2 separate regions of the Homo sapiens genome follow, and region 2 is linked to region 1. Evidence: fine-mapped expression QTL. Tissue or cell type: whole blood. Region 1 holds a variant in brackets; the other region holds the start of a gene. All regions are shown on one strand. Distances are between the middles of the regions.

Region 1 (5,000 bases):
CTGGTGACGTGCGCCTGTAATCCCAGCTACTTGGGAGGCTGAGGCAGGGGAATTGCTTGAACCGGGGAGGTGGAGATTGCAGTGAGCCAAGACTGCGCCACTGTACTCCAGCCTGGGCGACAAAGCAAAACTCTGTCTCAAAAAAAAAAAAAAGGAGCCGTGATAGCTAGGGTCCTAAAATATAATACGATGTTAATTTCTGCCATTTATTGTATAACAGTCTAACACAGAACTAAGCTCATATTTCTACTACGTGTACTTTCTACCAATTTCAAATTTTATCCATTTGATCTTTTTCTTTTCAAGATACTACCTTATTCCTCTCCTTCCTTTTTATTCTCAAACTACTGCCTCTGTCTCCTCATCTCTGTGGCCCCAATAATCTGGTTTTCACCCTTGATGCTTGTGTTGGTTATCTATTGTTGCATAACAAAGTATCCCAAAACTTAGCAGCTTAAAATAACAGCACTTATTATTTCTCAGAGATATGAGGATCAAGAGATACGCTTCTGACTCAGGGTCTCGCATGAAGTCGCAATCAAGCTGTCAGCCAGGACTGCAGTCATCTTAAGGCTTGACTGCTACAAAGTCTGCTTCCAAACTCACTTGCTCAAAGGCCTCAGGTCCTTGGCATATGGGCCTCTCCAGAGGGCTGCTTGCAACATGGCAGCTAGCTTCCCTCAGACAAGAGACAGAGGGAGACAGAGTGAGTGAGAGAGGGGAGGAGTGGGGGAGAGTGAGCGAGTTCACACAAGGGTACAAGCACATTGCGAGAACAGAAGAAGCCATAGTACCTTAAATAACCTAATGTTGGAAAGGCCATGCTATCACTTCTGCCTGTTTTATCAGTTATATAGACCAATCATGCAACAGCATGAGATGGGACTATACAAGAGTATAAATACCAAGAGGCCGAGATTACTAGGGACCATCTTAGAAGTTGGCTGCCACAAACCACATCTTCTTAGGCCTTTCTTTCTCCTTTTCCTGAAACTCCTCCTTGGTTTTCCAGGACAATCACTTTCACTCTCCTGGTTTTTCTGCTTCCTGAGCTTTTCTCAGCCTGTTTCAGTCAATATATTAATATTAGATTAATTTTCCTAAAATACATCTTTCACTAACTCCCTTAGGTTGGCTCCTCATCACCTATCAGAGTTACAACTAGACCTGAATATAATGTAGCCCTATCTCCCCAACATACAGGACTCAATCCCTATAAATAATTCCCCAAACTCCAGATAACATTTCTACTGCAGCATAGGTCATACTCCTCTTCCCTTTGCACCGTGTTCTGACTTCCGTCTCCTCTCAGTTGAGCTGAATGAACTTCTCCAGGTCTTATATTCCTCTTCCTGCCTCATTCTCAAAATATTCTTCTCATTCTGTATCCATTGGCTCCTCCCTTCTTACCTAACACATCTGTTTGAATCATTTTTTAAGCACTTTATTAAGCCTAGCTTTCTAAATGTTGAATTCTGAGAGCTTGTCTTCTTAATCAGACCATTAGCTCCTGGAGGGTCATGTCTTAGGTCTCTGGCACTAGCCTTGTTCTCTATGTTCTGGGAGACACTAAGGCAATCATCACATATTTCCTGACTTGATTTTTGTTTGTAAACAGAACATAACACGAATTTCTTGTATAAGTGATGGAAAATATAAACAACCGAAAATCATCTATGATTCATTCTTTTAGCAAGTGGAAAAGACATTAAAAACATAGTTTAAAATCTGTCTTCTGGGAGAACTTTTCAATACTTAAATTCTTTTGCTGGGTTCAGAAAGTGGCATGTCAACAGACAGTCCTAAATCTGTGAAAATCTATGCCCACAAGCTAAGTCTTGGGAATTAAACACACATACAAAAGAACGTAAAGACTGTGTCTACCTCATAGTTTAAGAAATAAGCTTACTGGCTATGCACGGTGCTCACACCTGTGATCCCAGCACTTTGGGAGGCCGAGGTGGGCCAATCACTTTGAGGCCAGGAGCTCGAGATTAGCCTGGCCAACATGGTGAAACTCCATCTCTACTAAAAATTACAAAAATTAGCTGGGCGTGGTGGTACATGCCTGTAATCCCAGCTACTGAAGAGGCTGAGGCATGGGAATCGCTTCTGGGAGGTGGAGGTTGCAATGAGCCAAGATCATGCCACTGCACTCCAGCTTAGGTGACAGAGAGAGACTCTGTCTCAGAAAAAAAAAAGAAAAAGAAAAAAAGACAGGAAACAAGCTTATCTTTAAACAAAATAATTGAATCTTCTTATCATAGAAGTGATATAAGACAGGGCATACCAGCTCAGAGTCCTTACTGAGTAACTACCATCTGCCCAGGCATGAGATGGGTACCTTTTACAATGTGCTGCTACATGTACAGTGAAGGTAAATCCCATTCTTACCTCATGGGCACAAGTCCCAGCATTTCATCACGCCGCTTTTCCTTTTTTTTTAGCTCTGATTCTGTTGACTTGAGTTTATCTGGAGCAAGTCGCAGTTTAGACTGCAAATCACTGATGACTTCTTGTAACTCAGCCTCTGTCTGAAAAACTCTCTGACAAACGGGGCAACATGACTGGTTTTCGTCTGTTAGCTGAGTAATGAACTGGGAGTAAACTGCTGTGGCTCCAGCCAGCATGGCTATTTTAAGAAAATAAATTATATCACCAATGAGAAAAAAACATAAAATACAGTATTCTGAATACGGTTGTATCTTTTTCTATAAATATATGATTATTCTTGCTTTATAAATATATTATAAAAGAAATAAAAATTCTGATATTTAAAATTCCGATATTCGCTTCCAAAGAGCATGATACATTCAGATTTGTATAAATATTTTTTGGTAACACATTATAAGTATAACAAAATGCCTACTGAGAGCTTTCTATGTGCCAGGCACTGTTCTAAGGGCTTTATAATTACAATCTCATTCA[C/T]ACCTCAGTACCACAGGTGGTAGTTGTGTCCTCATTTTATAGACAATGAAACACAGGAAGGTTTCAGTAACTTGCCTAAAGTCACACAGTGAGTAAGTTGTAGAGCCAGGACTGAAATCCAAGCCATTAGGCTCCATAACCAGGTTTTTAAATTCCCCATCCTTAACAGTTACCTGTGAATGAAAATTCAAAGGTGTCAAAGTATCCTGATAATATAAAGTAGACAACTTACCTCGCTGTTTTGATGATTTTTCAATTTCCTCTTTAAGCCTGTCTAAATCACTTTCAAAATCCTGGCTACCACAAACATCAAACAGCTTGTCTTCGTAACTGGACAACTGCTCTTCCTTTCTTTTTAGTTCATTATTTATATGATTTTTATTCTGCTCAGATGAAGCTAGTTCCTTGCTAAAATAAGAGCAAATATGGATTTTCATTTTAAAATAGGAGAAATTAGTTTGAAAATTTGAGTAGGCAAAAACAAGACAAATTCTGCCAACAAATCATGACAAGAGTTTGGTATGACCAAATAATTTTTTTCAGAAGTTGAGGGACTAGTCCACTTCTGCCTTAACTCTCCCCCTAGGACACTGACTCACCTGCCAGTCCTACTCATGGGCCTGCTCCCAGAAAAATGTACACAGAATTCTGCCTGGTTTCTGGGGGTTCATGGTCTTTGATCCCAGGTTAAGCCTCAGCAAGATGCTTGCTAGGACTATTGGACAGAAAGAAGACAAGAGAACATCCCCGTAATTCCCTTTAGTCCTTTCACAAATACTACTTCCTTACTCTCCTGTAAATACTGTTTCTTTTGTATCCTCCCCCTCCTTGTTGCTGTCATCCACTTGCGTCCAGATCAGTCATTCCCTCTCATTCATCAAAGATTTTGCTTACTAGTACAATTTATCCCCACTTTAATTCTTAAACATCATCCTAGCCAACCTCAATACTCACACATAACATGGTTTTTCAATTTGCAGGTTTAGATGCATTAGCTACCATGTAATCAATTTAATGTATTCAGCATATTTTTTAAAAATGAAACAGAATAGACGGTAATATATTGGAGTAGGCTGTATGTATATGTACTACTTTGAGAAATTTGTTTCAGATAAATGTGTGTGACTGCACACATGCTTCTTCATCATGACTACCCATCCTGAGTCACAGTAAACATTTGGAAAAAAGTAACTAATATGATGATATTTTCATTATCCTAGACTCCCTTGAGCACTTCTCATCAAGATCACCAGTGACCTAAGTGCCAAGTACAGTCTTCATCTTACTCTACCTCTACGTAGCACCAAACACTGTTGACCTTCTCCTTGAAGACTATTTTCCCAAGGCACCTAGACACCACAGCTATCTGGCTCTCACCCTGGTTCCCTGGGCACATCCCAGTTTCCTTCACTTGCTCCTTTTCCTTTGCCTGCTAACATTTTAAATGTTTGTGCTTCCCAGGAATCTAATTGTAACTCCTTCCCTTTGCATAACTCTCTCAAGGTGACATACTAATGACTTTGAGTATCCCTTACATAGCAACAACTTCCAATCTCCTGAATTTCAAACTCCAATATTGTATTCCCTCACAGATACTTCCACAAGAAACACAGATTAAACACCACCAAAGCCAAGTCCTTCTACTTTCCTCAAAAATCTGTGTGGAATTTTTGACCCGCTTATCCAACCACTATCCAAGGTAACATCTGAGAAACATGATCACTTTTTATAATGGATTACTCACAGAAATGAAAATAGAATTTTTAAATTTTAATCTTCATAGGTCTACAAATTTTCAAGGGACAAGAGGCCTAAATTACTATCCGTTACCATTTTACTTAATTTGCAAAATATGAGGGGTCTTCAAAATGTTCATGGAAAATGTGTATTATAAAAAAAACTATGCATGAAGTTCAAAATGTTTTGCACTGAAACAAACTCATACTAACTTGTTATAACATGTCTGAATAGGATCTAGTTTAAGGCACTAACAAGGTTAAGACATCAGTTTGAAAAGAGCCCCAATTAAACTGAAGCAAGAACAAGTATCAAATTTATGGTGAAGTGTGGGT
Region 2 (5,000 bases), 39 kb after region 1:
AACCCTTTAAACTAATTTAAGTTAATAATAAGAATGGCTAACAGTTAAGTACTGTATTGTACTAAGCACTCTTACATACATTTATTTAATTCTCACATTAACTCCAGGCTGTAGGAACTTTTTGTTTAAGAGACAGGGTCTCATTCTGCTGCCCAGGCTGCAGTGCAGCTGCATGATCATGGCTTACTGCAGCCTCGACCTCTCGACCTCCTGGGCTCAAGCAATCCCCCAGCCTCAGCCTCCCAAACGGCTCGGATTACAGTCGTCAGCCACCATGCCCAGCCTGTAGAAACTTTTTTTTTTTTTTTTTTTTTTTTGTGGGGGGAGAGAGTCTCCCTCTGTCACCCAGGCTGGTGTAGTGCAATGGCGTGATCTCGGCTCACTGCAACCTCCACCTCCCCGGTTCAAGCGATTCTCCCGCCTCGGCCTCCCCAGTAGCTAGGATTACAGGCATGCGCCACCACGCCTGGCTAATTTTTGTATTTTTATTAGAGATGGGGTTTCGCCACGTTGGCCAGGCTGGTCTCGAACTCCTGACCTCAGGTGATCCACCCGCCTCGGCCTCCCAAAGTGCTGGGATTACAGGCGTGAGCCACCGTGCCCAGCTGTAGAAACTATTTTTAATCTCCATTTTATAAATGAGAAAACTAAGGCACAGAGCAGTGAGGTCACTCGCAAACAATCAGACAACTAATAAATGAAGCGAAAAAGCTGTATTGAGGCAGCCAGTCCTCATAAACACTATACAGTACTACTCTCCCTTCTGCTAGTATTTAGTACAATCCTAAGTACATAACAAGCATTCAACAAATAACATTTTTACAAAAACAAAAGTAAACAAGTTTGGCATTCAATTCTCAACCTTCTCTCTTTCTACACTCTTCACAAATCCTTCCTTTAGACTCTTCTCCCTGCTATACTGACATCGTCTTGCTTTTTCTTAAGCCACTATTCCTGACCAGAATGCCTCTTGGTTATTCTTTCCATTCAAATTTATAAATATTCCCACGGCTTTAAAAAAAAAAAAAAGTCAGTCGTGCACCAACGTTAAATTTTTGACTGAGTTTTAAGAAGAGAAGTTTTCCAAGTTAAGCCCCACTACATCAGTTACATTTTGAATTTATTTATTTTCCATGTATTATGTCTGGACAGTTGGCATACTTGGAAACTCTTTAGTCATGTATGTATCATTTTATAACTTTTAAAGGAATTCTTGTATGGGACAACTACTGGGAAGTGAATGCTATGCTTTGAAAGCAAGGAGACAGCGTTAAAAACATCAATACAGACCAAAGGGCATCCAGTGGGAACTGAACTCTGAGTGAGCGGCGACAGCTCCCGGTATCGTGGGATTCTTAAGTAAACCTTGTCCCCAGGCCAGGTCCGGACATCCTTCCGAGACTGCTTCAGGCAAACTCCTAAGGTCGCTGTAGCCTGCAGGCCACACCCTAAGGCACTTTAAGGGCCTACACCTGTGGAGCCCTAGGGACGCTTCTGCTCCTAAGGAGAGTTCTCAACTTCCCATTTTATTCTCCGAAAGATGTAGCGACCTGTAAACTGAAGGCGGCTACTGAAGACTTACCGTCTTTCCCGCCCCATTGGGTCCAACCAAAATTGTAAGGGGGCTGAAGAAAGTGATAATTTGCTTATCTTTGTCCTCTATTCCAAAACTCCGCACGCCCAGAATGCTCATCTTTTCGATCCGGGACATGTTTGCAAACGTTTCTAATCTCACCAGGGACCTGGAGCCCACAAAGGCTTAACTGAGGCCGAAGCAAGGCGTGCACGGGACGTGAGACCCGCGAATCTCAGGGTCAGGAGGATCCGGGCGGGGAGCGAGGCCACAGGACTGCCAAAAGATCCTGCCAGCCAACAGCGGGAGAGAGGGGGCGGGGGATGGAGCCTTTCCTCCCACACCAGCTGCTTTCCCCGCCGGTGGGGAGAGCGGAGGCGGGGACCAGCCTGGGGCTGCCCGCCGGGGACGCAAAGCCGTAGCCACAATGCGACCCCGCAACCGCGCACTCACAGCTTCCTGCCTCGGCCGCCCTGCGGATCACGTGGGCCTCTAGGCCCGCACGCGTCCACGCCGCTCTCCTGGGGCACGCCGGGAAATCAGAGTCCCGCGGTGCGTGCGCAGCTCCGACTTCCGGGTGCGGTACGGCGAAGCAGAGGGCTAGGTGCTGGGTGCTGTTGCCAGGGGCAGCGGACTTCCGGATCTTTGCTGGGGATGGGCAGCCTGGAGAGGCACTGACTTTTGGAAGGGGAGACCAAGACCTGTGACGGATGGCGCTTCCCAAAGCTTGATCCTGGGACTCCTGGAATGGGGGTAGTGGTGGGGTGGATTGGAGACCCAGGAAGCGGGGTCAGTTCGTGTCAAAACTATTTTCCTTTTCATTCTCATTCTCTCTCTAACGTTCGTGTAGTAATTTCCAGTGATCACATAACATGTGATGACGCCATTGCAGTGGCGGTTAATGGAATGTGCGCATGTGTATTCTTGCGCTTAGAAATACCAATTTTAATTTCTAATTGAGTAAATGTTGATAATTATAACTCACGTACACGCTCTTTGAGGTCCCCCGTAATTTTTTAGTGTAAAGGCGTCTTTAAGACCAAAAGTCTGGGAACTAAAACTAAAAGCAGTCTGCAAATATGAAGAATGTAGAGGTAATCCATTCCGATCAGTGCTCCCAGCAATAGATATCTTTAAAAATAAGGGAAAGAGAAGTTACCTGTCTCAGAAGTAACTGAGAATATTGCTTTCTTGGAAACAAACTTAATGGAGGGATATCACATTTAAGGGCCTAGAGAAACATACATAAAAATTACTGAAACAATAGTGGAGGACATTTAAATGAAACACAAATTTGGAATTACTGTAGTGGTATAATTTGCCTCTGCCTGCCTTGGAAAAATGTAGGAAATGTTTCTCCAGTCATACAATCCCAAGCAAATAATTTACAGAACCTAATACATAAATGTATGTGCCAAAGGATGCAAGTGGGGAAGACCAGTGAGAAATAGTCTCTTGCTGTACCAGGTTAAAAAAAACCGGAAAGTGTCAGTTATTACAAAATAGTTAAAATAACTAATGGAACAAAACATTAAAATTATATAGGAATGTCTTACTTGGCAAAGCAAATGTAATAAAACAATGGGAAAAGACGAAAGACCTTTTTTTATTTTAAAAATTGTAAAATACACATAAAATTTACTGTCTTGGCCAGGCGCGGTGGCTCACGCCTGTAATCCCAGCACTTTGGGAGGCCGAGACGGGTGGATCACGAGGTCAGGAAATGAAGACCATCCTGGCTAACACGGTGAAACCCCGTCTCTACTGAAAACACAAAAAATTAGCCGGGCATGGTGGCAGGCGCCGATGGTCCCAGCTACTCAGGAGGCTGAGGCAGGAGTATGGCATGAACCCGGGAGGCGGAGCTTGCAGTGAGCCGAGACCGCACCACTGCACTCCAGCCTGGGCAACAGAGCGAGACTCCGTCTCAAAAAGAATTTACTATCTTAACCAAGTGTACATTTCAGTGGTGTTAAGTATACTCACGTACAACCGTCACCACCTTTCAACCTCTACAAATCTTTTCACTTTGCAAAACAAACTACCCATTAAACAATAACCCTTTCCTCCCCACATCCTCCAAACCCTGACAACCAACATTCTACTTACTGTCTCTATAATTTTTTACTAAGTACCTCATATAAGTGGAATCATACAGTATTTATCTTTTTGTGACTGGCTCATTTCACTTATAATGTCCTCAAGGTTCATCCATGTTGCAGCTCAGTCCCCAACCCCTGGGTCACTGACCAGTATGCATACCTGGCCTGTTAGGAACCTGGTGGCACAGTAGGAGGTGAGCAGCAGGTGAGTGAACATTACCACCCGAGCTGGGCCTCAGATCAGTGGGGGCATTAGATTCTCATAGGAGCACAAACCGTATTTTGAACTGCCCATGAGAAAGATGTAGGTTGCCCCATGCAAGGGATCTAGCTTGCCCATTCCTTATGAGAATCTAATGCCTGATGATGTGAGGTCGAACAGTTTCATCCCAAAACCATCACCCCACTCCTGTCTGTGGAAAAACTGTCTTCCGTGAGACTGGTCCCTGGTGCCAAAAAGGTTGGGGACCACTGTAGCATATATCAGAATTCAGGTCGTTTTTAAGGTTGAATAAGATTCATTACAATACACATCACATTTTGCTTATCCATCTATTGATGGACATTTGGGTTACTTTCACGTTTTAGCTATTGTGAATAGTGTGGCTATATATATTGGTGTACAAATGTCACTTCTGGACCCTGCTTTCAATTCTTTTGGGTATATACCCAGAAGTGGAATTATTAGATCATACAGTAATTCAATTTTTAATTATTTGAGGAACTGCCATACTGTTTTCCACAGTGGTTGTACCATTTGACATTCCCACCAATAGTGCATAAGGGTTTCAATTTCTACATATGCTTGCCAACACTTGTTATTTTATGTTTTTTTATGGTAGCCATCCTGATGAGTGTGAAGTGATACCTCATTGTAATTTTGATTTGCATTTCAATAATTATTAGTAGCATCATTTCATGTGTTTATTGGCCATTTGTGTATCTTTGAATAATTGACTATTCAAGTGGAGACTTTTTTTTTTTTTTTTTTTTTGAGATGGAGTCTCACTCTGTCACCCAGACTGGAGTGCAATGGTGCGATCTTGGCTCACTGCAACCTCCACCTCCCGCGTTCAAGTGATTCTTCTGCCTCAGCCTCCTGAGTAGCTGGGATTACAGGCACGTGGCACCACACCTGGCTAATTTTTTGTATTTTTAGTAGAGACGGGGTTTCACCATGTTGGTCAAGCTGGTCTCGAACTCCTAACCTTGTGATCCACCCGCCTCGGCCTCCCAAAGTGCTGGGATTACAGGTGTGAGCCACTGCGCCTGGCCAAGACCATTTTTTAAGTCAGATTTATTGAAGCATAATTAACATACAGTAA

Evidence for each region. PIP is the estimated chance that this variant, and not a neighbour inherited with it, causes the effect.
Region 2: it holds the start of RAD50, and the variant in region 1 is fine-mapped to the expression of RAD50 in whole blood (TOPMed, PIP above 0.99). The same link has a PIP of 0.9 or more in fibroblasts.

What each region holds. Positions count from the first base shown.
Region 1 is chr5:132,593,205-132,598,204 of GRCh38, reverse strand. RAD50 (RAD50 double strand break repair protein) reads right to left here. Exons shown (of 25, transcript NM_005732.4): 12 at 3,161-3,336; 13 at 2,395-2,632. Among named protein-coding and RNA genes, the nearest start is that of RAD50, 39 kb to the right of the region's middle. The variant C/T (reference allele first, on the strand shown) is at 2,929.
Region 2 is chr5:132,554,036-132,559,035 of GRCh38, reverse strand. It overlaps RAD50 (RAD50 double strand break repair protein), which reads right to left and starts at 2,059. Exons shown (of 25, transcript NM_005732.4): 1 at 1,583-2,059. The coding sequence starts at 1,711. It also overlaps a transcript of IL5 not described here. RefSeq lists an enhancer at 1,776-2,436.